2 separate regions of the Homo sapiens genome follow, and region 1 is linked to region 2. Evidence: fine-mapped expression QTL. A gene starts in region 2. The other region holds a variant in brackets. All regions are shown on one strand. Distances are from middle to middle. Region 1 overlaps MRPL23 (mitochondrial ribosomal protein L23). Region 2 holds the start of LINC01150 (long intergenic non-protein coding RNA 1150).

What was found. PIP is the estimated chance that this variant, and not a neighbour inherited with it, causes the effect.
Region 1: its variant is the best candidate, but not a certain one, in a credible set for the expression of LINC01150 in whole blood (Lepik 2017, PIP 0.71).

What each region holds. Positions count from the first base shown.
Region 1 is chr11:1,951,539-1,962,449 of GRCh38, reverse strand. MRPL23 (mitochondrial ribosomal protein L23) reads right to left here. Exons shown (of 5, transcript NM_021134.4): 3 at 10,241-10,323; 4 at 9,595-9,668; 5 at 5,850-6,194. The coding sequence ends at 6,030. Among named protein-coding and RNA genes, the nearest start is that of SNORD131, 7.7 kb to the right of the region's middle. RefSeq lists an enhancer at 3,633-4,411. The variant C/T (reference allele first, on the strand shown) is at 6,440.
Region 2 is chr11:1,890,903-1,901,813 of GRCh38, reverse strand. LINC01150 (long intergenic non-protein coding RNA 1150) reads right to left here and starts at 5,055. Exons shown (of 4, transcript NR_120534.1): 1 at 4,669-5,055. LSP1 (lymphocyte specific protein 1) reads right to left here. Exons shown (of 11, transcript NM_002339.3): 11 at 9,551-10,041. PRR33 (proline rich 33) reads left to right here and starts at 9,919. Exons shown (of 1, transcript NM_001395380.1): 1 at 9,919-10,911. RefSeq lists an enhancer at 3,795-4,994.

The DNA.
Region 1 (10,911 bases), 61 kb before region 2:
GGCCTTGAAAGGACTCTTAGCCGGCTACGGAGATGAGACGGGCACTCACGTACACCGCAGCCCAGGCCCTGGCCACCACGCACAGGGCACTGCAGGCATCGTGCTTGCTCCCAGGGCCCCAAGACGCAAAGGCGACAATGCAGGGAATTCTGGGGGTGCGGAGCTGTGAGCGGTGCTGGAGACAGAGAGGCAGGGACCGAGGGTGCGGCACCTGGGGAGGAGGAGGACAGAGACACGAAGATGGCAGAGAATGACAGGGAAGGGAGCATGCACAAGGCGGCCAGAGCCCTGGGGCTGGGCACCTCGGTCCAACCCCTGAGCCCCAACCCGAGCCCCAGCCCGGGCCAAGCTCCCAGCGCCCTGCAGGAACCGCCTGGGGGCCAGCCCAAGAGCAACACGCCATCCGCATCCACGCCTCTCCCCAGCTTCCAGGCCACTCGGGAGCCCACCTGCGCCCCTCGTGAGAAGCAGCCCAGGAAGATGTCGCCTTCATGAGCACACCATCTGGAGCTCCACGGTAGGGACGTCTGTGGAGCCGGCCCCATCCCTCGGCCGCCCTCAGGCACCTCTAGAGCCTGGGACAGTCACTTCCTCAGTGAGGCTACAGCAGCCTCACATGCACACCCCAGGCAAGAAAATGCCCGATCCCTCCAAGAGAAACGGCAAGTTCACATCCACGTAAAAATGTGCACACACGTGTGCACCACAACCTTGCTCACGAGAGCCAAAAGGCGGAAGCCGCCACGTGTCCACTGATGGACGGCGGATGAACACGCGGACCGTTCACCCAGTGGAGCACGACTCAGCCACAGAGGGAAGGAGATCCTGGGGCAGGCTGCGACATGGGTGCGCCCTGAAGATGCCACACCAAGTGAAATAAGCCAGACACGAAAAGCCACACAGACCCTGAGTGGTTCACTCATGAAACATCCAGAACAGGCCAATCCAAAGCAGACCAGTCATAGCCAGGGGCAGAAGGGAGCAGGGAGCTGGGAGCTCCAGCTAAGGGGTGCACATTGCTTTCTGGGTGATGAAAATGTCCTAGTAGGCTACACAACTCTGGGAATATACTAGAAGCCATTGAGTGGGTGGATTTTAGGGTATGTGAACTTCATCTCAATAAAGCTGTTTTTTAAAAATAGAAAAGAGCATCCCAAGGCCAGTGCTCTCTCAGATCACTGCAGCCACAGGCCTCCTGCTCTGGGGGACCCCCCATGGCCAGGCAGGGATGCCAGGCGGTGCTCGGCTCACGCCACCTGCCCACTCAGCCAGGCCCTGGCCAGGAGCACCCACCAAAGCCCGAGGAAGAGGATGGCAGCCTGGCTTTCCCACCTGGCCAAGCTGACTTCCTGAATCGGGCACTCACTCACTCACTCGTTCACTCAGCTAATACGGCTGATGGTTGCAGGAAAGGTGGGAGGTGGGAGGGCAGTCCCAAGATGGCAGCCACTACAGCTACCTTCAAGGGGCTGGCCTTCTCCAGCCTGTCCTCACTTTAAGCCCTGGGGTGGACCAGGAGGAACCGCTGTGTCCCTGGCCTTCGTCCCCTGCTGGAGGCCAGAAGATGGGAACCCCCAGTGCAGACAGGCAACCGCGAATGTGACTTCAGGTTCTAGACTGCAGAGGCATGTGTTGGCTTGAGGCAGAGGGGCCCAAGGAGGTGGGTGGGGGCAGGATGGGGCAGAGGAGGAGCCCAGGGAGCCAGGGACAGGAAGAGCCCACTCCTGCCCCAGCACCTGGCTGCTCATCTGCCACCAGGTACGGAAGTGATGCCATAGATGGGACACTATCAAGCCGCCCCAGGAACACTGCCAGCTCCCAAAGAGGAGAACCAGATGCCCCAGATGCCCTCAGGAGGCATCTGGAGGCGCAGGAGAGGCTGGAACACGGGGGCCCCAGCAGTCCTGTCCACCCGGCATGCCATGGCAAAGTGCAGCGTCCACTATGGAGAGCGTCTTAGGGCAGGCGGAGGGGTGGAAATATGGTCAAAGAGAAGAATTCTTGGCCTTGAAAGAACTCTTAGCCGGTTAGGGAGATGAGACGGGCACTCACGTACACCGCAGCCCAGGCCCTGGCCACCACGCACAGGGCACTGCAGGCATCTCTGCAGGGCCCCAAGACGCAGAGACGACAATGCAGGGAATTCTGGGGGTGCGGAGCTGTGAGCGGTGCTGGAGATAGAGAGGAGGGGACCGAGGGTGCGGCACCTGGGGAGGAGGAGGACAGAAGACAGAGGGGTTTCTGCTCCATTCCGGCAGCTTGGCTCTTACCTGGAGCTGCCAGGGCATGGGCTCCTGTGGGCCGTAGAGCTGGGCCCATCATGGCTATAAACTCATCAGCATAGAGAAGTGGGGCCGTCCAGCTATGAGCACAGCCCGGTGCGGTCCCGAGGGCCCTCCACCCCTTCCCATGCACGCAGCATGGCACTGCCTGGGCCTTGCATCACCCCTGCATGGCAATAAATGAACATGAATGGGGACACGGAGCAGCGCTGTCGGCTCTCTCCCTCGTCCTGTTGCCTTTGTCTCTGGCTGTCCCCGACCCTGCTCCCAGCTGGAGATGTCCACGAGGGGAAGGGCTGTCATGTTGGGGGCGACCGAGGCAAGGCCGCGGGCCCACTTGCTATCTCTTGGGTCAGGGTCCCTCTCCCACTCCTGCCACGCTGAGGATGTCCAGACACAGGCGGGAGTGGTCCTGTCAGCCTTGGGAGATGCATCTTTCCGGGCGAGTTCCTTCTGCAGGAACAGCCTGTTTGGGTTGGACAGGGGTCTTGCCCAGGTGTGGGGGTGGTGAGGTTGACGCCCGGGCCGGAGGGGCCCTGTGAGACCCTCTCTGGTCCCCATGCATGAAAGAGCCTGTGTGAGCACATGCGCCACGACAGTGGGCCCTCGTACTGGGGAAAAGACAGACCTGCCCAGGTGCTGCTCCCTCCCTCCCTGAGCCTCCAGGCAGGAGCGGGTCACGGGAGCTGGCGCGTCCAGCCGGTCCCTTCTGTGGGCTGTGTGTGTGCCTGAGGTGGTGGGAGCAGACCCCCAGCTGAACCCGAGCATCCCACTCCACCCAGGGCCCTTCCTGTGGGCCCTCCCCGCACAGCCCTGGTTGGCTACCCCAAGCTCAGCTCCATGGGTGCGGCACGCAGGGCTCTTGGAGAGGCCAAGCCTTCCAGACCCTGAGTGGGGCCGCCTGCCCACCCCGGCCTGCTCCGCGCTCCTCTGCAGCAGGCATGTGAGGTGGGTGTGGATGCTTTGGGGAAGACTACCCAGTGACATGGCTAGGTCATGCCACACGCGGCTGGGACAGATACCCGGGGGCCTCAGTTCTGACACCCGGCTCAGACCAGAAACCATTGGTCAAGTCAACGACCCAGAAAGTGGGGTCTTGTGTGAATCACCCACCCCCGCCGAGGACTGGCAGCCCTGTTTCTCACGCTGGACCGCCACACGCCCGTCCCTATCCCCCATTCTTCAAGAAATGCGCCCAGCCTCACCCCGTGCTCATCCCCGCATTTTGGTCTTGCCTCCATCTGGGCACCCCCTGGGACTGGGCCCAGGCCACGCACTTGGCAGGCCCCTGAGGCTATTATCTCCCCTAAGGCCCGGCCCTCAGCCAGCCCCTTACCGGGGTCAGTGGGCTGCCATGCAGAAGGATGCCCAGTGACGACTGGGGAGTGAGGGAGCCCCTGGTGTGCTGTGGAGATGGGGGTGCAGTAGCTCCCCAGCCCCTTTCTCCTCCCTGGCAGGGAGGCCTGTGGGAGACATGGGGGCTGCGACGGGACAGCACAGGCCGGGGTGAGACAGGGCGGGAGGAGGATCTGGAGGCCGGGGCGGCTGGAGCCGGAGTCAGGGCTGCGTCTGGGGGTGGCGGCCGTGATGGAGTGTGCCTGGTGCGCTGGCCGCCAGCAGGGCTGCTAACGGCCCCTGTGTGCGGGGCTGGACGTGCCGTGGATGAAGGATGGGATTCCTCTTCCCCTGCCGTGAGTTAGGGTCCTCAGAGCTCTAGGCCCCATGAATTATTTCTCTAAGGAAAACACAGTTGACTCCATTTCTCCGGCTCTACTTCCTGACCTTCCCCATCCCTTTAAATCAACACTGAAGGGTGAGCTTGCCCGGGCCTTCACCCCCTAGCCGAACACTTCCCCCGCCACACCCCCTCCTGCCTGCACTCCGGGCTGGGGGAGGGGAGGCTGAGCCAGCTGCCACGCCATCTCCTCTTGCAAGACCCTCGGAAGGCTGCCCAAGCAGAAGGAAAAGCCAGGACCCTCACTCAGACCACAACAGGCCCACGCTGCAGATCAGGGTTGGTCCCAAGGCCACGTGACACCTGTGTTCTTCTGAGCATTCGCATGGGGAGGCTTACACGGCAAACCCAACTTCGTGCAAGAAAGCCGCGCCGTGGGCTTTCCCCCAGACGCCCGAGTGCGGCTCCGTCCTGGTCAGGGTGGAGCGCAGATGGCTCCCGACGTACACGTGGGCCCTGGTTTTGATTCCCAACCCCAAAGCCGGAGCTGCCCGCACACAGCAGGGAGGGGGCCTTGCTCTGGCCTCCATGTTGGATTTTCTCGGGAAGCACTGGAACCAAGGACAGACTAAGAAAAACAGAGGGGCCCCCAGGCCTCTGCAACCCGTCCTGAGGACGCACCAGCTGCCGCATGGAGACGGGGCCAGAAGGGGCTCTGGAGGCCCTGGGCCTCACCAGATGCAGGGGTTCTGGGAAGAGGGGCTGGAAACCTTCCGGGCTCCTTGGAAGGTTCTGAATAAGACATCATTAAAACCAAAAATCAATTCTGTATCCAGCTCAGGGCCCCCTGGAGGCTGCCCCGGCTGGCCTGTCCAGCTTTGCTGGAACGGGAACCCAGGCCAGTCTGCCAGGTTCAGGCCCCAAAAACGGCGGCCGGGCAACCCCCTTTTGCTCCCACAGGCCAGGCCAGGCTAGGAGAGGCAGCACAGAGCCTCTGGCAGGGCCACAGGCTTCCACGCAGAACCCTTTAGACAAGAATCAGAGCAGGGGCCGTGCGTCCTGACCTGCCCTGGGCCGACAGAACAAGGGTCTAGACCCAGGCATCCACCCAGACACTGCGAGGCCACTGGGCACCTCCAACAGGATGCTCAAGCCCACCCTCTCCTCTCTCGACCTGTCCACCCCCAGGGCCGAGAAGCCCACAGAACTGTTTTGCAGTGGTTGCTGGCCACACCTTGCCCCCTGCCCTAACCACCTTTCCAGGCTGGGTCCTCCCTGTCCCCTAGGCCCAGCCCCGGGCCTGTGCCCGACGGCACCTCTCCGCCCGACGGCACCTCTCCGCCATGGCTCTCCTGAGACACTGCTGCCCTCGGATCCCTTCCCGGCCCTTCTCGGGTTCTTGCTGCCAACAGTGCCAAACCGAAACCCACAGGCGGGCCGGAGTTCCCTCACCAGGCCCCCTGAGGGCTGCTGCCCTGGCAGCCCCTCCCCAGAACTTCTGTCCAGGCCAGGCCGTTCTCTCACCCGGCGCCGCCCCGTGCTCACGCTGACCCCTCCATTCCTCCCGACGCCTCTGGGCTCAGGCTCTGAATGTGGGCGCTCAGAACTATCTTCTGGGTCTTTTCACCTGCGTGTCTCATTCCCCACCTGGCATGCAGCTCCGAGCCTGTGTGTGGCCCTCTCTGGCCAACCCGCCTCCCCAGCATGGGGCCACGTCTCAAGTCTGCCCACCCTCAGTTCCCCGTCAACTCAGAGACCAGACCCCGGCCGCGCCCACTGCCCAGACCCTGGGAAAGCGGAGCCAGGCCACGTGGCGCTCAGAGCTGGGGGGTGGCTGCTGCGTGTCTGGCACCCAGAGACCCAAGAGAAGAAGGAAGCAGAGCTTCCGGCTCTTTCTCCTGCAGCAAGACTTTTATTTAGGTGTCGGGACTGCTCTGCCACAGCTGCCCACCTGGGGCGCGTCCCTGCTGGCCGCCCCGTCACGGCCCGAACCAGCTGGGGATGCCGCCCCGCCGCGGGTCGCTGCTCTGCCACAGCTGCCCACCTGGGGCGCGTCCCTGCTGGCCACCCCGTCACAGCCCGAACCAGCTGGGGACGCCGCCCCGCCGCGGGTCGCTGCTCTGCCTCTGCTGCCTCTCCTCCTCGAGCATGCTGTAGAGGTCGTCGGCAGCGCTGCCTTCAGGGCTCTCGTCTTTCTCGGGAAACAGATCTGGGAACGTGAAGGTCTGTCCATGGGCCTAAGGGGGAGAACAAAGGCTCCAGCCAGAGCTGCAAAGACTCCTCAGCAGAGGGGTCTGTGGGGGAGCCTCATGCTTTCTGGCAGCCCCTTTCTGCCGGCGCCGGATTCAACTGCTCAGAGGTACCTCCCTGGGCCTCCTGGGGCAGCGTCCCTGCCTGGAATGTAAGCACCCCCACGGCCACCGGCCCCCGGCTGTCACGCTGCAGCAGAGGCCACAGCTCCAGGACAGGGCCGCTTTCCCCA[C/T]CATTGTCTCTTTAGGGCCTGGTGTCTGCCCCCGCCCTGGGTGCACCCATTTACTAGCACGGGGCCACCTGGTTGGTGGGGGGCAGAAACAAGGCATGGAAAAACATGACACAAATCACGTCTGGTACCATGCTGAACCTGTCCATCCAAAATGCCTCAGGCTCTACTCACATTAAAGCTCCCCCTCCTCCCAGCCCAGAGCCTGGCAATTAAAGTGAACATCACGTACGAAGAAACATGCACGTGCGGCAGTTGATAAATCAGGACCGGCTCTGCCAATTAACTGGTCTTACATCTTCTGCTGAGAGTTCAGAATATGTCCGTGTCAGCCAAGCCCCAGCCCAGGCCACAGCATGTGGCTCGGGTTCACGAGAAGGAGGGGATACTGCTCCTTGGGGACCTAAGCAAATACAAGAAGCCATCTTAACTTGCTAATGATTACTAAGTGCTCCAAAGCTAAGAGGCAGAAAGAGCAGACCAGAGGAGAGGGAAGAGAAGAGGGAGGAGGAGTGAGGATGGCACCCGAATCTGGAACCCTTTAGTGAGTAAAATCAGTCAGGTACACTTGGCTCTTGCAGACCCTTTGTGTGTAAATAAATCTGGATGTGGGCAGGCAGCCAAGTATGATCTGAAACAGGCCCAGATCCCACCCTGCGAGGGAGGTGTATGCACCCTGATCCCTGGCGCAGAGCGCAGGGGCTGGCGGGGAGAGTGGCACTGCGTGCGCCGTAGCCGGCCTGCAGGAGGATTGCCTTACACAGCTCTGAACTTTGCGTCTTTTAAAATACCAAGGGGCAGTCGTTTACACGTGAGGCTGACTGCCCAGAATGGGAGATTCACCTTGACTATATGGAGGTGATTCTGCTAGTTTTCCGAGGCAAGGGGAACCCAAAATGACAGTTTAAAGCACAAACATGGCCATTTGTCACAGCTTCGGGAAGAAATGGGGAAAGGTGCTGAGAGAAAATCCGTTTCTTACAGGAGACAAACACCGTTTGGGGATGCCAAGCATGGTTTCCCAGGGGCTTCCCCTTTCTAGAAGAGTTCACCTTGTACCTAAAAAAAAAAAGCCCTTGATCCTTCCAAAAAGGAGAGAGACAGCTGATCGGGGTAAAGAACAGGAATGGAGAAAAATGTCCCAATGACAAGTAAACAAGGCAGCCCTGCCTTCAGGAATCCCAGGGCGCCCTGGGGGCTGCCGCCTGCCTGGACCTGGAGGCCGGAGCCCCGAGCACGGAGCTCGGCCCAGCTGGCGGCAGCGGTTTGTTCTGGAGTTGCCTCTCATGTCGTGCGCCCTTCATTCCTGCGCGCCCTTCATTCCCGCGCTGCTCAGCATCCACACAAGCCTCGGGGCAGCGGGCAGTCAATGGTCTTTTTGTTGTGTGGGTCACTGAGGCGCTGCTTTCAGCTCCCAGGACTTTGGGCCAAGGAGATGCTTATCAGGTTGTCGGAGAAAGAAATGTGGGACTCCCGCCACGTGGGACAGGGCCTTTCCACAGCGGCCAACTCCAAATAACGTGGATAATTTTACCTTTCCAATGCTCCCTCCCTGGGCTTTGCAATTAGCAGTGATTCTAAGCCCTGGCGCAGGGCCCAGGGGGACACGCTGAGCAAGGTCTCAGCAGACACGAGACAGGAAAGGGCCTTGAGAGTCCCCTCTGCGGGCAGACAGGGACCAACGGCCACGGCCCATTTCTAGGCTGTGCAAAGATGTGCTGGAGTTCAGGAAGGGGGGTGAGGACCCGTTACAAATTTTCATTCTGGAACAGGAGGATCCATGCCCAACTGGGACCCTTCAGGCTCCCAGTTGCCCTGCCCTGTCTCTGGCTGCCTGGACTTCACAGAGGGAGAACAACACGCGGGCAGCAGCTGCAGACACCGGATCCCGGAGCTGCTGGGTTCAGTTTTCATGGGAGGTGGGGCCCAGAGGAAGAACGCAAGGGCTCGGATGACTTGAATGCCACTTGTAACCGTAGCTGCCTCTGAAGTGCCCGTGGCGGTGCCGGCACACGGGATGTCCACCCACATGCCATGACAAAGACAGATGGGCCCGACTGACACTGAGCACACAGAGGCCTTTATGAGGCCAACGGCTGCTCTCCCCACCTGGATTGGCTGATTTCATGCACAGCAAATATCAGGCCAAATTATTCCGGGGGCCCCTGTTTAGAACAACAAATGTGACTGTTTTTCAGAAAAGCTGCCATGCTAACTTGGCCTTTTTCACAAACTGCCTCCTTAGCCCCACAACAGGCCGGCTGGCCCAGGAGGCGGTTTCCACCATCGTGTGACTGCCATCTAGTGGCAGGGCCCGCCGGCTCGGCCTCCAGGGACCATTTACACCGGAAGACAACCCCATCCCCACCCAGTAAGGCCAGCCCCAGGGGCAGAGTGGGGAGGCCCAGGAGGCGGCCGGGGCAGGCTGTGGACATCTTGGCCCAGAGAGAAAGTGCCTCTGGGTTTGCCTGGGACTCAAAATGAAGAGCCCAAAGAAAGGCTTTGAAACTGTGGGTCTCACTCCTGACAAGTCTGGGTTTCAGAAACTGAAGGCCCAGGCAACGTGGGGTGAGGGTTCTTCCTCCCCAGAGCCCCCCAGGATACGTAAGAAAGCACCTGCTCAGAAGCAGCCTGCTGAGCCCTAACAAGTACGTGGGACCTGCTACCCTGCAATGCAGGACATGGGCCTCAGCCAACAGCCCGGCCAGCCAGACCTGCCTTGGCACCAAAGACCTTTGCCCTCAGGGGCCTCACACTCTGCCTCCGAGGCTGAAACCCAGCCAAGGACAGGCTCTCCAGAGGCCGGGGCCTCCCATGCTCTGACACCCTGGTGTGCGTTGGAGTTGAAACCCACTAGGCCTGTGATGGCTGCCTTTGCCCACAGAGAATTCAAACTTCAAAATCACAAAACGGCCGGACGCTGAGACGTGCCCCATGTGCCCCAGTGCTCACGTGCTCCCAGCGCCACCACTAACACCCCCAAGGCCGTGACGGAGCATGACCTTATGTGGAGCCTGCCTCTGCGCTGAGGCCCTGAGATCCGGCCTCACGGGGGCTCCCTGGGCCCCAGCGCAGCGTCTCCGGCACAAACATCCCCAAGGACACAGTTGCGAGGAGCCCCTCGGAGGCCCCGCTGGGGCTGGCCAGCTCACACGCACCAGCTGCACGTAGGCGACCTTGTAGTCCGGCTTCTTGATCCTCACGTTTCTGTGATCTCTTCTCTTGTTAGAGCCTGCCGGAAGGGAGTGAAAAAAAAATCAGAACTTTAAAAAAATCAGAACTTTAAAAAATTACATCCTCAGAGGTCAATGCCACTAAAACGAACCTCTGCTCTCTTAAAAATGTAAATATGTTTTTAAAAACTCAAAAAGGCGATTTCTCAGGGAAATGGGCACTGTAATCAAACGAGCCAGCACAGCAGGCTCCCAGGCTCCTCCCTTCTCCCAACAGAGGCCAGCAGGTTCTCAACAAAGGAGCGGACGTGGCACCAGCCAGGGCACACGACAGGGGCTTATGGAACAGACAGCGCTTTGCTCCCCAGCCTCAGCCACTGCAGTCCCACCTCGGGGGCTGACGGCAGGAGTCAGGGCTCAGAATGGACCCCGGGCCAGCCCAGTTGAATTCCAATCCCTGCTCTGGCACGTAAGCACCGTGTGACCCTGACAAGTCACCCTGTGCCTCAGTTTCCCATGAGCCACGTCAGACCAAGACCCCCATGCAGTAGCTGAGGCTGTGGCTCGGCGAGGTGGGCATGTGGCACAGATGGGCACGACACCAACAGGAGAACCTCCCATGGGCACTCACCATGCTGCACCCGTGTCCGCACAGCAGCCACGGGCACGTTATAGATGCCCTCGAGGTAATTCCTGAGGTCCACCCTTGTCATTCTGGAGGCGAAGGAGAAAGAAAACGGCATCTTAACCAGGCTAAAAGCCAAAAATACTGTCCCAGATGCACAAGCACCCGAGGCTGAGAGGCCGACAGACCAAGACCCACAGGGGGCAGGGAGGAGGGCTGGGTACATCAGCGGCACTAGTGAGGCCAGGCAGCCCCAGCAACACCAGTGCTGCTGGCTGCAAGACTCCCTACTCTGGGCACACCAGCATGGGGTGGCAGTGGCACAGACCCCACAGAGTGGGAGCACTGCCCAACCAACCCCTGGCCTGCTCCACAGCCCCACATGGCTCCCTGCTCCGGGCAAGTGCCTGTGAGAGGAGGTGACAGTCTCTGCACGCTCCTGGCTGGCAGGTGCCCCACCTCGTCTGCCCCGGGGCCCAGTGGCCGCATCAGGGTTAGGCCTGCTCTGCGGCTGATGGGACTGATGCGGTTCTAGGAAGTACCTTCTGGAAAGGCCTGCCTGGCATTCGGTGCGTTAACTGCAAGTTCCCTCTACTGCAGAACCTCACGGTCACTGTCAACTCAGCTTCTGGGCCCCTGCAGGCTGCACAGGCCTGACCTTCGCCCCCAGGGGAGCT
Region 2 (10,911 bases):
GGAGGGACATCCCTTTGTTTTAAATTTACGTAACAAGTCTTACCTTTGTTTAACGTGTTTTTCCTGGCCATGTTGTCTTCACTGGGCCTTGCTTTTTTCTTGGTTGAGCAAATGATGATGGTACAGTATTTAAGCTGAAAGTCTCAGCTTAAATAGCTTTTCATATATACATTTTCTGCCTTGTTTCACCTAAGAGTTATCTTTTTTGAAGGCAAATTGTTCCCTAGCTAACGATTGCTTAGGATGATAAAACAAGTAATTAGAAGATTGATAGTCTAAAGGGGGAAAAGAAAACTATTTGAAAGCTGGCAAATGAAAATTCTTTCTGAAATCTGTAAGATCTGTTTCTATCTGTGTCTGTTATGACTATATGTCTCTCTGTATGACATGTATCTGATAATATTTAGGAAAAAGCTGAAACCACCTTTGCATTGTCTCTTTGACTGAGACGGTGAGAGACATCTAACTTAATTGACTCCATCTTGCCTTTTTTTTTTTTTAGAGGTGGTGTTTTGCTCTTGTCGCCCAGGCTGGAGTGCAATGGCGTAAACTTGGCTCACCACAACCTCTGCCTCCTGGGTTCAAGCGATTCTCCTGCCTCAGCCTCCCAAGTAACTGGGATTACAGGCATCTGCCACAACGCCCGACTAATTTTGTATTTTTTTTAGTAGAGATGAGGTTTCACCATATTGGCCAGGCTGGTCTGGAACTCCTGACCTTGTGATCTGCTCACCTCGGCCTCCCAAAGTGATGGGGTTACAGGCGTAAGCCACCGTGCCTGGCCCTTCCATCTTGCTTCTAACCTCCTTGCTTATTCCTGTCCTTGCTTATTCCTGGGAGTAGGCTGAACTAACTTTGGGAGAAACTTAGTTTATAGTTTAAAACAAAGACGATAACAGCCTTTCCCAGTGGAGAGAGCTACTAAGGGCCCCTATAGTATCCAAAAAAGAGAGAGACAGAAGTATTTGATAAATTAAATTACATGGGAAGCACTGCCAAATAAGAAATGATGTTTAACCTTATTTGAGATATTGTTTGTGAATACGTCATTAATATATGCTCCAAAATTGTATGGGGTTCCTAAAATTCTGATACATCCGGGTATATGCTGTCACTCTTAATTACAGTTAAGTTATTGTAGGCCACAGAAGTAATCAAAATTCCTTGTCAGTTCTTCTTTAACCATGACCATTTTACGTCATTTCCAGAGTTAATTGCTTTTTTCTGACGTTTCTGAAAACTCACAAACACACACAGTCCTACAATATTGAGTCCTCCAGGAGGTTCGTGAAAGGAGAGAAAGGACCCTGATAAGCCCTCTTGAATAGGCTTCTGATAACTTTAGTGTAATGTCATTTGGACTGGGTAAAAATTCCCGGAACTCTAATGGAAAGATTGACTGGTTTATAAAATTGCTAACCTGGGCAGGACAAAAATTAATTGAATACCAAGAAAACACTTTGCCAGCTTTTCATGCTAAATCAGCCAGTACTGATATTGTTTAGATACCCAATTTGAATTAAATCCATCGTCCAAGTCAAATTACCTATGATAACCCTTCTAATAAACAGTGCTATGCACCTGAACTGGAGAAACAAAATTGGTATTTAAGAAGATATAAGTCCAGCATCAAGCATGGACACATGGACAGCCAAGATGGCCACCTGGTCCTTCCTGTGTCCTTGAAGCTTCCACTATTAAATGCTCTGCACTCCATGATTCATCATGGAAGAGACAAATTAATCCAAATTTTATATATATATGTATATATAATATACATATATATATTTGACATGGTGACCGTTGTAAGTTGTTAAAATGGTTTACGACCAATGTTTGGTCTGCCAAACCCATAATCCTGGGAGGACAATCGAAACTTCCATTACACTTCTGCTACTTGATGGGCCATTGAAACATTGCTGGAGGGATTTCCTTCAATTGTCATTTTCAATGCGTGTTTTCTGGTTATATAGAAGCTTTCCCAGGCAAGAGCACTGATGTTATAGCAGTAGCTAAAAGATTATTAGAAAATTGTTTTTCTCATGGGACGTCCCTTGAGAAATCTCCCATGATAGATGTACTTGTTTCACTGCTCAAGTGGTAAAACTGTTAATAACTTGTTACAGATACAATAATATTAAGCAAGGGAAATGAATGAACTGGGCTGCCTTGGTCAAGGGTGTTGCAGGTGGATGGCCGTCGGGTCCATTTCCAGTGGAAAACATAAGTTGGTGCCTTATGAAATAGTCCCTGGAAGTCCTATATAGAACCTCATGTATCTTCCACTCCTCAACTCCGATATGGCTAAAGGCTCCTAGGCCTTAATGCATTATGCCTAAGTATATTTTCACCAGGTACAGAAAGCTTTTCATGGTCCACTGAGGACCCTATCAAACGCTTCACAATCTAGAACCCAGACATTTGGTTTTCTGAGAGTATCACAGAAAGACTGCCCTTGCCACCCACACTGCAGTGAAATTCTAGGACTTTGAACCCTGGGTTCGTTATCTCACCGCTCAAGAGGGCATCGCCAGACTCCAGCAACTGCAGCCCCATTGGAGATTTTAAGGTAAAGCTAATCAGGGAAGTTTCTCCCCAGAAGCAGCTGGCATCCCAGATATGGACAGCTTTTTCCCAAGAACTTGAGACTGTCATGCCTCTGAATAATAGAACTAAAAAGGGATCTCTTATGTGCACTCATGGGGTATACTTTTATTTGTGGAGGATTTTGCAGCCAATCCTATATGTGGACAACCTTTTGCCTTGACAGTTGGAAGACGAAGGGCCAATGTAGGTGAAAAAAAAAATTAGCTCACTCCAAGTCTCACTCTGTTGCCCAAGCTGGAATGCAGTGGTGTGATCTCAGCTCACAGCAACCTTTGCCTCCCAGGTTCAAGCGATTCTCCTGCCTCAGCCTCCCAAGTAGCTGGGATTACAGGCACCTACCACCAAGCCCAGCTAATTTTTGTATTTTTAGTAGAGACAGGGTTTCACCATGTTGACCAGGCTGGTCTCGAACTCCTGACCTCAAGTGCCCACCTCGGCCTCCCAAAGTGTTGGGATTACAGGCGTGAGCCCCTGTGCCCGGTCTGGGTGAAAAATGTTGAGGGTGCCTTTGTTGCTTCCCAATCAATCACAAACAACATCGCTCCACTCCTCTACATCACAGCTTAAAGAGAACTCTGGCAGGAGCTTCACTCTTCTAGATGGGCACTGTTTGTGAGGCCTCTTTTTCCATGGTTTGGAGTAAATGAGGCAAAGATTTAAAATGTATCCCTCTGCTGGGCGTGGTGGCTCACGCCTGTAATCCCAGCACTTTGGGAGGCCGAGGTGGGTGGATCACAACGTCAAGAGATCAAGACCATCCTGGCCAACACGGCAAAACCCTATCTCTACTAAAAATATTAAAAATAAGCTGGGTATGATGGCGGGCGCCTGTAATCTCAACTAATCGTGAGGCTGAGGCAGGAGAATCGCTTGAACCCAGGAGGTGGAGGTTGCAGTGAGCCGAGACATGGCTGGCGCCGCTGCACTCCAGCCGACGGAGCGAGACTCGGTCTCAAAAAAAAAAAAAAAGTATCCCTCGTAATTGGCTCTGGAACAGATTCTACTCCAAAGGCTATGGTTACACAACAGTCTTTAAATTCTCTTGCTAAAGGTGTGTGGGATGATAGACTTGCTCTGGATCCCTTACTAGCTAAACAGAGGAGCGTCTGTGCCGTTGCCGATGCTTCTTGTGGCACATGGAGGAATGTATCAGGTATTAGAAAGGTTCGGTTGTAGGGGATTAACAAACAGGCTGCTTGTTTGAAATGAGTAGACTCTTTATCCAGCTAACTCTCTGATCTATTTGATTTTCGTTGGTTTGCTTCATGGGACCCCACCTAAGGAGCATGCTTCACATTCTTGGTATTAAATATGATCTTCCTGATGGTCATAATACTCGTCTCCCTGGCGCTCTGCATTCTCTCCGGAGTTTTAAATGTTTGCATGCAGCCATCTGTAGGATGCTAAATGGTGTCTCTTTGACTGGAGCAACAAGAACTCAAAGAAACACAAGGCCATGAGGATGTCGTAACCTAGGTACGAATGACATTCTGTGACCGGAAGCTGGAAGTGGCGGTGACTGAGGGTGGTGCCAAGGCCCTAAGGCTTGGCTACACTTTCCACTAAATGAGAACCTGACCAAAGGCAGGGAATTTTTAAACAAAATTATAAGAGGCCATTGTTTTGGACTGAGCTCCCGCAAGAGGCCCCAACGGACCAGACCAAACCCAGATGGAGTCACGCAAGCTAAACGCAACACCATCAAACCGAAGCTTTACGGAAGCAGATAGGTCCTAAGGCAGACCAGGGTTTGTTTTTCTGAGCACATGAAATTCCAGCACAAGGAGGTTCCTCTCTATCCCTTACAAAAATATATAACCCGAGGTCCTCGTTCCCACTTACGAAACCCATTGTTCTGCTATTTCCCAGTGGGGCTTGGGACCAAACAAGTACATTTACAATGGCGACAGGGACACCAATGTCTAAAGGGGGAAATCGTTAAATTAAGCTTGGCGTAAAGCTGCCTCCTGACATAGTTTATGTTCCGCCTTCTCCATCCACTGTGAACTGAAACCTCACTGGAGACGTAAACAGACTGAAGCCTTCCCTTGTGCCACTCACCAGGTTTCCGCTCATCAAGGGTGCCGGCCATTCCAACCGTGTTCAGATAAGGCAAGCATGGAGCTGCAGCCCCTCTGGCGGTTTCTGTGCTTTGCTTCCGTTTTCTGTGCCTCCTTTCCCTTTTCTGTCCACCAATCTTCAGCCACACGGCAGCACCAGAGCCTCTCTGAACCTATTTTGGTTTGGGGGCTGCCCCATTAGCGAGTGGTTCTTTGCTTAATTAAACTCTGTTAAATTTAATTTGTCTAAGGTTTTTCTTTTAACAGTACAGAAAAAGCATTTGAAAAATCCAACGTCGGTTCCTGATTTGTTTAAAAAACATCACTCAGTAAATTAGGAATAGAGGGAACTTCCCTAACCTAATACAGGATATCTATGAAAACCCCACAACCGATGGCGGAAGACTGAACAGTTTCTCACTAAGAACAGAAAGGAGGCTGGGATGTCCGCCCTCATCACCTCCGTCCAACATTGACCTGGAGGTTCCTGCTCGTGCAATTAGGCCCCCAAAAGAAATAAAAGCCATACAGACGAGAAAGGAAAAAGAAAACAATCTTATCTACAGATAACGTGACCATCTAACCCGATGGAATCAACAACAAAAGAAAAACCTGCAAGAACTACTCAGTGAGATTAACAAGGTTGTGGAATAACAAGACTGATATACAAAGTCCATTGTGTTTCTATAAAATGGTAATCAACTATCAGATATTGACATTAAAAATACCACTTCCTAACTGTATAAAAATAGACAATACTTAGAGGTCAATCTGACAAAAGATGTGAAAGACCTCCAAATTGAAAGAGTAAAAAATCCTTGGAAGAAGTGGAAGAAGACCTGAATAAATAGGGACATCCAAGGTTCGTGGATTAGTAAGTTCAATACTGTTAAGATGTCAACTCTCCCTGCATTTATAGAAATTCACAGGTCCATTCTAAAACACATATGGAAAAGCAGAGGAGGAGAAGAGCTAAAACAATCCGGAAAAAGAACACAATTGAAGAGCTAACATTCTAAGAATTCATATAAGACCAGTGTAAGCAAAACTTGAGTGATACTGGTGTAAAAATATTCAAGTAGATCCAAAAGAAAACGGTCCAGAAATCAGCTTACACACACAGACTGATGACTTTTTTTCAGGCAGGGTCTCACTCTGTTGCCCAGGCTGGAGTGCAGTGGTGCAATCTCTGCTCGCTGCAGCCTCAAATTCCCAGGCTCTAGGGATCCTCCCACCTCAGCCGCCCAAGTAGCTGGGACCGCAGGCACCCACCACCATGCACAGTTCAGACTTTTGACAAAGGTGCAAAGGCGACTCGGTGCACAACTGTAGCTTCTTCAAGAAACCATGCTGCAGCAATTTCATATTCTGGAACAACTGGATCTCCATATGCAAAAAGAAAAAGAAGAATAATTTGCATTCGTACCTCACACTATACACAAACATTAACTCAAAAAGGATCGTGGGTCTAAATGTAAAGCTGGAGCCATAAAAACACAGGAGAAAATCTTTATGGCTCTGGATAAGGCAAAGATTTCTCAGACATGATACCAAAAGCACAATTCCTAAAAGAACAAATTGACAAACTGAAATTCATCAAAAATGTTTAAAATTTGCTCTTCAGATGGTTAACGGTGAGAGGACAAGGCCACCAACCAGGAGAAAAATCTTTGCAAATCTATTTCATCAAGGATTGATTCAGAATATATACAAAGAACTCTCACGGTGGCTCACGCCTGTAATCCCAGCACTTTGGGAGGCTAAGGCAGGCGGATCACTTGAGGTCAGGAATTCGAGACCAGCCTGAACAACATGGTGAAACCCCACCTCTACTAAAAATACAAAAATTAGCCCGGCGTGGTGGCAAATGCCTGTAGTTCCAGCTACCTGGGAGGCTGAGGCAGGAGAATCGCTTGAACCCAGGAGACGGAGGTTGCAGTGGGCCAAGATGGCGCCACTGCACTCCAGCCTGGGCAACAAGAGCAAAACTCCATCTCAAAAAAAAAAAGAAAGAAAGAACTCTCAAACTCAACAATAGGAAAACAAATAACCCAATTTTACAGCAACGGGCAAAAGATCTGAACAGATGCTTCCCCCAGCAAGATGTATCAGTGGTGAAGTAGCACGTGCAAAGCTGCACGGCACCCCTGGTGCCGGGAGACACGCAAGCCAAAATCACAGACCGCACCCTCCACGTCTAGGAAGGGCCAAAGTCAGCGAGATGAACCATTCCAACTGCAACAAGAAATGAGAGCTAGGCCGTTTCTGAACAAGTTTCACACACACCTCCCACGGCATCTAGTCGTTTTATTTCTAGGCCTCTCCCCAAGAGTAAAGGAAATGTATGTCCTTCTGAAAACCTGTGTGTGAATGTAAATGGCCACATTACTTTCCATCATTCAAAACTGGAAACCACCCTGATGTCCACCAAGAGACGAACAGATGAGCGGGTTGGGGTGTACCCATGCTGTGGCAATAAAAATGAGTGTTTACAACAGACACAGCAGCAAGCATGGATCTCAGAATAGTTATGCTACGTGACAGAAGTCAGACAAGGAGTGCGTGCGTGCTGCAGGATGCCATTTATGTAACACTGTAAAAAAGCACAAACCCTTGGGTGCAGGGCTCATGCCTGTAATCCCAGCACTCTGGGAGGTGGAGGCAGGGGGGGTCGCTTGAGCCCAAGAGTTTGAAGCCAGCCTGGGCAACATAGCAAGACCTCGTCTCTACAAAAAAAATCAAAAACTTAGCCAGGTGTGGTGGTGGGCACCTGCGGTCCCAGCTACTTGGGAGGCTGAAGCAGGAGGATCCGTTGAGCCCAGGAGGTTGAGGCTGCAAGGAGCTCTCATTGTGCCACTGCACTCCCAGCCTGGGAAACAGAGTGAGGCTCTGACACACACACACACACACACACACACACACTCCCACACTCCCAGCCTGGGAAACAGAGTGAGGCTCTGACACACACACACACACATTCCAGCCTGGGAAACAGAGAACTTGTCACACACACACATACACACAAACACACACACACTCCCAGCCCGGGAAACAGAGTGAGGCCCTATCACACACACACACACACACACTCCCACACTCCAGCCATCCACCCACCCACCTACCCATCCACTCATTCATCCCTTCCTCCATCCATCCTTCCCGCTCTCTGTCCATCCATTCATCTATCCCTTCACCCATCCATCCACCCACCCATCTACCCATCCACTCATCCATCTCTCCATTCATCCATCCACCTATCCATTCACTCACTCACCTATCTATCTATCCGTCCTTTCATCCATCCTTTCATCTACCCATCCACACATCCATCCCTCCATTCATCCATCCACCTATCCATCCATCCACCTGTCCATCCACTCTCATCCATCCCTTCATCCATCCATCCATCTACCCATCCATGCATCCATCCCTTCATTCATCAATCCCTCCATTATCTATCTATCCATCCATCCAACCACCTACCCATCCCTTCATTTATCGCTCCTTCCATCCATCCATCCACCCACCCACCTACCCATTCACTCACTCATCCCTCCCTCCATCCCCCCTCTCTCCCTCTGTCCATTCATCCAGCCATCCCTTCATCCATCCATCCACTCATCTACCTATCCACTCATGCATCCCTCCTTTCATCCATCCACCTATCCATTCACTAACCCATCCATCCATCCATCCAGCCAGCCAGCCAGCCAGCCAGCCATCCTCCCACCCACCCATCCATTCACCCACCTATTCACCCACTCATCCATCCATTAGTCCATCCATCCACCCACCTGCTTACCCATTCACTCATCCATACATCCCTCTATCCATTCATCCATCCCCTATTCATCCACTCACCCATCCCTCCACTCACCCACCCAACCATTCATCCACTCACCCACCTACCCATCCATTCACCTGCTTATCCGTCCACTCATCCATCCATCTATCAATCCATCCATCCACCCACCCACCCACTTACTCATTCACTCATCCATATGTCCGTCTATCCATTCATCCATCCCCTATTCATCCACTCACCCATCCCTCCACTCACCCACCCAACCATTCATCCACTCACCCACCTACCCATCCATTCACCTGCTTATCCGTCCACTCATCCATCCATCAATCCATCCATCCACCCACCCACCCACTTACTCATTCACTCATCCACATATCCCTCTATCCATTCATCCATCCCCTATTCATCCACTCACCCATCCCTCCACTCGCTCATCCAGCCATTCATCCACTCACCCACCTACCCATCCATTCACCCACCTATCTGTCCACTCATCCATCCATTCATCTGATCATCTATCCATTCGTCCACCCACCTACCCATCCATCCATCCACCCACTTGCCCACCCAGCCATTCATCCACTCGCCCACCTACCCATCCATTCACCCACCTATCCATCCACTCATCCATCCATTAATCTATTCATCTATCCATTCGTCCACCCACCTACCCATCCATCCATCCACCCACCCATCCACCCATTTGTCTGTTTTCCAAACCTTCACTGAGCACCTCCTGTGTGGTGTTGGGGGAGGCCCCGAGGTGGATCTTGCCCTCAGTGGGTGCGAAGTCAAGGCACAGAAGTTTATATTGGGCTAGTCCTGGTTGGGGTAGGGATATCACAGACATTCTGGAAAAGGAAGCCCGGACCCCACCCATTGTGTGTGCTCTGACTTAGGCCACCAGAGAGCTTATGTCCTGGCGTCTTATACTGCAAAGGCCATGAGACAGGTCAGACTGCCTGAACCCAGAGGCCACAGCATGCTGTGCAGTGTGGGAATGGGCTGGCCACTGGCCCAACATTTCCATCCTGGCCAGCCCTGCCCCCTTAGTGAGTACAAGACAGCCAGCACATGAGAATACACAGGGAGCTTTATTATACAAAATGGCGGGGTGGGGGGCGGCAAGCAGCGGGGGACGCAGCATCAAGCATCCTGCATGGCCGTTATCAGCCCTTGACCTGCAGTTTCTCCTTGGATCTGGGGGGGTGACCCACCCTCTCTGCACAGGCTGTGCCTCAACCTCCTAACTTCCTAGAAGGCACTTGGCCTCTCCAGGGGTAAGTCCCTTTGGCCAATGATCAGGAGTTTCTTTCCTCCCCCAAGTAACAAGAAGCGGAGCTGGGTGGGGAGGGCGGGGGCGGTGGTCAGAGAGTGGAAGGGCAGAGAGGCTAAAGGGTCCAGGAGCAAAAGGAGGTGGCAGCGGATGGCATCAAAGAGGCGAGGGTAGGTCATGCTGGCAACAGGAAGCAACTTCTTAGCCAGGGCCGGGGGGCGGGTGTCTGGCTGGAATCTCCCCTGGGTACATGGAGGGTGCCAGCCGGCTGGACCTGCAGACCCAGGAAGCTGGAACATAGGCATGGGGTGCAGGGGGCATTAGGCTAGGGTCCAGGGAGGGGCCACAGACCTGCCTCCTGCAAGCCCACAGAGCCTGCTCCCCGAGCCTCTCTCTGCTGGCCTCCCTGCCCTGCCCACACCCCCACTCCACCACAGGAGAAGACGTCCTGCCTCAGAGGCCTGCTTCCCAGTGCGAGCACTTGTGCCCTGGGTCAGGACCTCTGGCTGGAGACCTGACTCCTGGTGGAGGGAAGGCGGCCTGCCTGCCAAGCAGCCTGCCCACCCTGGGAGCTAGAACTGGGGTTCTCGTGGTTCCTGCAGTCCCGTCATCCAGAGGAGGCCGGTAGCTGAGAGCAGTCCTAAGCAGGCTCCTTCCGCCCCCACCCCTCCAGCAGCTCTGTTCTTGCCTTGGCAGAGCCAGCCCCCACCAGCGGCAGCCCCCAGGACTCCCTCCTTCCCCAAACCAGAGAGCCTCTGGCTCGGACAGATGCCATTTGTCAATGTCCTTGCAAACACGTGGTGCCCAGAAACCAGGGTGGGCGGCTTGGCCGGGCCACCCCAGACAGGAGGTCTGCGGGAATATCCCATTTAGCATAGCTCAGCGAAAACTGCTCCCACCTTCCGGCCAATCTACCTCTGATGATGCAGCCTCGGCTTTCCCAAGCCTCTTGGCCGCCACCCCTCACCGCTGGCTCGCAGCGGACGCGCCTGTGGTTGAGCCGGCGACAACAGGGCGCCCCTCACGTGTCTGGGGGCAGCCGCTCTTCCAGCCCTGGGCTTGGCCAGCAGCTGGCCAGGGGCATGCCTGTCACTTGGGGCTCACCCGCGTCTCCGTCTCCCACCCCAGCCCACACGGTGTTGCGGCCTGACCCAGGCTGT